Regions from separate parts of the Homo sapiens genome. Here region 1 is linked to region 2. Evidence: fine-mapped expression QTL. Tissue or cell type: naive CD4 T cells. Region 2 holds a variant in brackets; the other region holds the start of a gene. All regions are shown on one strand. Distances are from middle to middle.

Region 1 (2,617 bases), 62 kb before region 2:
GAGATCCTTGGGGTCCACCCTAGTCTCTGACACCTGGGACAGGGGTGCTTTTGCTACTTTGGTTGTGGTCACTCCCCCACACCTGCCTGCCTCCTTCACGGACTCGAAGTGACCTTCCTGGAGGAGGTGGGCAGCTCAGACTCCACATGCTGGTGGTGCCTGAGGTCTGATGGCCTCTAATAAACTGTGTCCTATATGCCCTTGGGTGCATCTCTGCTAGGGGAGAGGCCAGCATGGGTAGCACTCCTTGCCCCCATTTTACAGATTAGGGGAATCAAGGCCTCTTTTTTTTTTTTTTTTTTTTTTTTTTTTGAGACGGAGTTTTGCTCTGTCTCCAGGTTGGAGTGCAGTGGCACGATCTCCGCTCACTGCAACCTCCACCTCCCGGGTTCAAGCGATTCTCCTGCCTCAGCCTCCCGAGTAGCTGGGACTACAGGCGCCTGCCACCATGCCCGGCTAATTTTTTTGTATTTTTAGTAGAGACGGGGTTTCAGCATGTTGGCCAGGATGGTCTCGATCTCCTGATCTCGTGATCGTCCCGCATCGGCCTCCCAAAATGCAGGGATTACAGGCGTGAGCCACTGCGCCCGGCCTCAAGGCCTCCTTCTTGCATCATCAAACACCCTGCAGCACCTACGTAAAGGCAGTTGGAGCTGGGTCGCAGCACCCGGCTGAGTCACGCCAGCCCGGCCCTCCCGGAGCTCTGCGTCCCCGATCCGGTCCTGCATAATCAAATACAGTATAACAAAGTACCGATAACCGGGACAATGGGGCTGTGTGCTCCGGACCGTGGGAGCCCGGGGCCGCCGCAGGGAGGCCGAGGGAGGAAGCCACAGGGCAGGGCAGGGCAGGGCCGGGCTTTGCAGGGGGCAGCGCTGTCCCAGGGTGAGGGGTACGGGGGCGGGATTGCAAAACCCTAGCGTGCGCCCGATGATCAGCTGGGGCCGCAGAGGTGGGCCTCGCACAGGAGGCCGCGGCTCGCTGATACTGCGAGCTGGCAAAGCCGAAGCTGGGCGGGGGTCCGGGCGGTGGGAGCCAAGTCGGATCAGGGAGTGGCTTGTAACTCGGCGGCCGATTGGACACGAAGAAGAGAGCGGGGTGGGGCTGGGAGGGTTGGGGGTCCGGAGCGGGGGCGCGGACCCAAGACCACCTGGAGCTCCGCCCGGGCAGCGCGGGGTCACGGCGGGAATTTTCGGGTCGCCGAGTGACTCAGCCCCGCAGGCTCGAAACTGCGGGCGCATGAGGTGTGCAGGTACCGGGGTGGGGGTCCCGCGCCGGAAATAGGGGCGACTGAGGGGCCGCGAGGCGGGGAGGAAACAGGGGGGCTGCGGTTCCGGGCGACACCGCCCCCGACGCGGCCGTGGAGGCGGGGCTCCCCCAGGTGGCGGGGCGGGGCAGGGCTCCCCCAGGTGGTGGGGGCGGGGCGCCGGGGAGACCCCGCCTCCCGCGCCCTCTCAGCAACCCGCACAGGGCGCACCCGGACGCTCTACCGCTCCCGCCGCAGTCGCCGGGCCATGGGCCTCGAGCCCGCCCCGAACCCCCGCGAGCCCGCCTTGTCTGCGGCGTGACTGGAGGCCCAGGTGAGGCCTGCACGGACGGGAGGCGGGCGGGTGCGGGCCTGGGCCCGGGGGAAGGGCGCGGCACGTGCCTGCGGGGCCAGGACGCCGCCCTCTGATCCCTTAACCCCCTACCCCTTCCCCAGTCTGGAGACGCCTGGAGGCCCGGCCATCCATCCCTTCCCCAACCGCTGTCTTTGTCCCGGAGACCGCCAGTGTCCTCCGTCCCACCCGGAACAGCCTATTGCCCCGCCCGCTTGGGAAGCACTCGCGCCCAAATCCCGCCGACTAACTTCTGGGGCCGCCTCTCTGTCCACTCCGATCACCTCCACGCCTCGGCACCGCCCCCTCGCAGGGTTCTAGCAAGTGACCTCACCCTTGTGTGCACACGCTCCCGGGTCTCTGCTCCCTACACTGACTCCGGCACCAAAGTGATCCTCCCTCATCTCTTCCCGCAGCTCACACCCCTTTGTCTTTCCCTAACCCTCCTCTCCCCACAACCCAAACCGGGTCACACATTGGCGGCAGGTGGGCTGGGATTCGACCATAGATGGGTTTTGTTTCACTTCTGGTTCAAAAACCTATTGACTTGGGTGATGTCTTGCACACAGGTCTTATTAGTAGGTAAGAAACAGCTGCTCCTCCACCTCCACCCCAGCCCCATGGAGCTTGCTTTTTCCAGGCCACCGTAGTCCTCACCACTGCCACTTTGCTTCGAGGTATCTGAATTTGAGACCCTTGTCCTTCCTGCGCTGACCCTCCTCTGCAGCTGCCGCCCCTCCCTGTGTCCTTCCAAGAAGTGCCACATGCACTGATCTCTTGTGTCCCCAGATGGTCATCATGGGCCAGTGCTACTACAACGAGACCATCGGCTTCTTCTATAACAACAGTGGCAAAGAGCTCAGCTCCCACTGGCGGCCCAAGGATGTGGTCGTGGTGGCACTGGGGCTGACCGTCAGCGTGCTGGTGCTGCTGACCAATCTGCTGGTCATAGCAGCCATCGCCTCCAACCGCCGCTTCCACCAGCCCATCTACTACCTGCTCGGCAATCTGGCCGCGGC
Region 2 (2,755 bases):
AGATACAGATGGAGTGTGAGCTGCCTGAGGGATACAGGTGGGGTGTGAGCTCCCTGAGGGATACAGATGGAGTGTGAGCTCCCTGAGGTGATTGAGATGGAGTGTGAGTTCCCTGGGGGATGCTGTGGAGTGTGAGCCCCCTGAGGTGACGTGGTAGAGAGTGTGAGCTCCCTGACTCTATAGCCTGGTAGGCAGCCACCAGTGTCCTCTGTGGAACTGGGGGTGAAAGAGGGAGACACTAAGACCAAGAGGCTAAGAAATATTTCCGAAGGTTTTAACATGGAAACAGTAAGTCCAGGCAGCCTATGGCAGCAAGCCAGGTCCAGGCCATACCCCCGTGGCAGCATGAGTGTGTGGAACAGGGCCTGGGTGCCGCCCTCCCACCTGGGCAGGCACAGCCCCACAGCCTCTATGGCAGCAGGAATGGCAGGTGCTGACCCACAGCATGGCTTGCTGCATGTCACCACAGCCCTCCCTACTTTGCAGTTGGAGGGGCTGAGTTTCTAGTCCTTCACCACCATGCTCTGCTCCAACCCAGGCTAAGTCCAGTCAAGTCTCTGTGACAGAGAGCAATTGGAACCCCTCGGGGTCACGCAGGCAGCAAAACATCCTGAGGTCATAGTCACATATGACTTTGCTCATCGGGATCTGCTGTGGTGTCAGAAACAAGGCCAGAGCTGGAGCAAGGGGCTGCGCCTCTGGGTCTTCAAGGCCCCTGGAGAAGCGTGAGACATTTGGCCCCCAAGGAACAATTGTCTGGAGGACAACCAGGGCTGCTTCAACCAGGATGGAGCCTCTGGGGCCTCCCATGTGGATCAAGAGAAGGCTGCTCACACCCCCGGGGTAGGCAGACACTATGTTTGGAACAGAGAGCACACAGACAGGGATCCTTCTTTTTATACTTAACATTGCAAGGATAATGTAAGTACACCAAATGTTGGCCAGGCATGGTGGCTCATGCCTGAAATCCCAGCACTTTGGAGGCCAAGGCGGACGAATCACCTGAGGTCAGGAGTTCGAGACCAGCCTGGCCAACATGGTGAAACCCCGTGGCTACTGGAAATACAAAAATTAGCCAGGCTTGGTGGCACATGCCTGCAATCCCGCTACTGGGGAGGCTGAGGCAGGAGAATCATTTGAACCAGGGAGGCGGAGGTTGCAGTGAGTTGAGGTCGCACCACTGCACTCCACACTCCAGCCTGGGTGACAGAGTGAGACTCCGTCTCCGAAAAAAAAAAAAAAAAAA[AG/G]TACAAAAATTAGCCAGGCTTGGTAGCACGTGCCTGTAGTCCCAGCTACTGGTGAGGCTGAGGCAAGAGAATCACTTGAATCTGGGAGGCAGAGGTTGCAGTGAGCTGAGATCGCACCGCTGCACTCCAGCCTGGGTGACAGAGTGAGAAAAAAATGTTTGAAGTAGCAAAGGTCATCCACAATCCTCTTCCATCCCTCAGCTGTTTCATTTCTGTGTGTTATTATACTATACGTTTATTTTACTTGCTTTGGGATACTGAAATGTGGCCCTGGATGGACGTCTCCATGCCTGTAGGAAGGCGCTGGCCCTGGGGTGCTCACCCATGTGAATCTGCCCAGGGGACATTTTTGTTGTCACGACTAGAGAAGGGAAGTGCTCCTGGCACCCAGTGGGTGCCAAGGATACCGCTCAGCACCCTGCAGTGTACAGGACAGCCCCCACAGAGCAGATGGAGCCCAAGCATCAGCAGTGCCACCAAAGGTGACAAGCCCCTCCCTGGGGGACTCCAGTGCCAGTTTGCAGTCAGAGCTGGGCTGATTCCACCTTGGCCATGGACTAGCTCCTTTTTCTCCTGCCTCTGCTTTCTTACAGCAGGGACGATAACAGCTGCCTCCCAGGTCCTCATGAGGATGAGGCAGAATGATATATGAGGCTGGGCCTGGAATCCCAGCATTTTGGGAGGCCAGGGCGGGAGGAACTCTCAAGCCCAGGGGTTTGAGACCAGCCTGGGCAACAGAGCGAGACCCTATCTCTAAAAAAAAAGAAAAAATATATTTTTTTTTCTGAGACAGGGTCTCACTCTGTTGCCCAGGCTAAATTGCAGTGCGATCTTGGCTCACTGCAACCTCTGCCTCCCAGGTTCAAGTGATTCTCCTGCCTCAGCCTCCCGAGTAGCTGGGATTACAGGCATGTGCCACTGTGTCCAGCTAATATTTGTATTATTAGTAGAGATGGGGTTTCTCCATGTTGTCCAGGCTGGTCTCGAACTCCTGACCTCAGATGATCCCCCCACCTCAGCCTCCCAAAGTGCTGAGATTACAGGCGTGAGCCACCACGCCCGGCCAAAAAACCTTTTTTTAATTAAAATTAAGAAAAATATATGAATATATGAGAAGTGCTTATCCTAGCACCTGGTACATTCCAACTACCCCTTCAGAGTTCACCTTGTTTTCATTTGATAAGTTTGGGATTCGATCGCAGTTACTGGGTCCCCAGGTCTCCCTGGCTCTCACTTTTCCTGAAGAGAACACGGAACGTAACCTGCCGCCTGCTGCATGGCAGCCAGAGGCGCTGTCCCTCCCGGCCCACCTCAGACAGTCTTGTTTTCCTTCCAGCCCCTTCCCAGGTTCAGGTTCCAGCAACATCCAGTTTTAGGCAGCAGAGTTCTAAGACACGCCAGCTCCAGGGTGTCCTCAACCCATGTGGACATCTCCCTGGGTCCGTGGTTCAGAGGGCGCCACCTTCTCAGTCCCAGACTCTTCATAGCCCCAGGGTGCAGTGTTGTCT

Alleles and levels. Positions count from the first base shown, and alleles are read on the strand shown. Sizes are in standard deviations (SD) of each study's normalised expression.
As copies of G replace AG in region 2, the expression in naive CD4 T cells of the gene that starts at base 1,452 in region 1 goes up (large effect, 0.83 SD a copy in Schmiedel 2018).

What was found. PIP is the estimated chance that this variant, and not a neighbour inherited with it, causes the effect.
Region 1: it holds the start of LPAR2, and the variant in region 2 is fine-mapped to the expression of LPAR2 in naive CD4 T cells (Schmiedel 2018, PIP 0.95).

The regions. Positions count from the first base shown.
Region 1 is chr19:19,627,055-19,629,671 of GRCh38, reverse strand. It overlaps LPAR2 (lysophosphatidic acid receptor 2), which reads left to right and starts at 1,452. Exons shown (of 3, transcript NM_001395660.1): 1 at 1,452-1,580; 2 at 2,388-2,617. The coding sequence starts at 2,397. GMIP (GEM interacting protein) reads left to right here. Exons shown (of 21, transcript NM_016573.4): 21 at 1-196. RefSeq lists silencers at 702-831, 1,202-1,701 and an enhancer at 142-1,064.
Region 2 is chr19:19,565,193-19,567,947 of GRCh38, reverse strand. The region is part of intron 5 of PBX4 (PBX homeobox 4); the gene reads left to right. Among named protein-coding and RNA genes, the nearest start is that of CILP2, 28 kb to the right of the region's middle. The variant AG/G (reference allele first, on the strand shown) is at 1,247.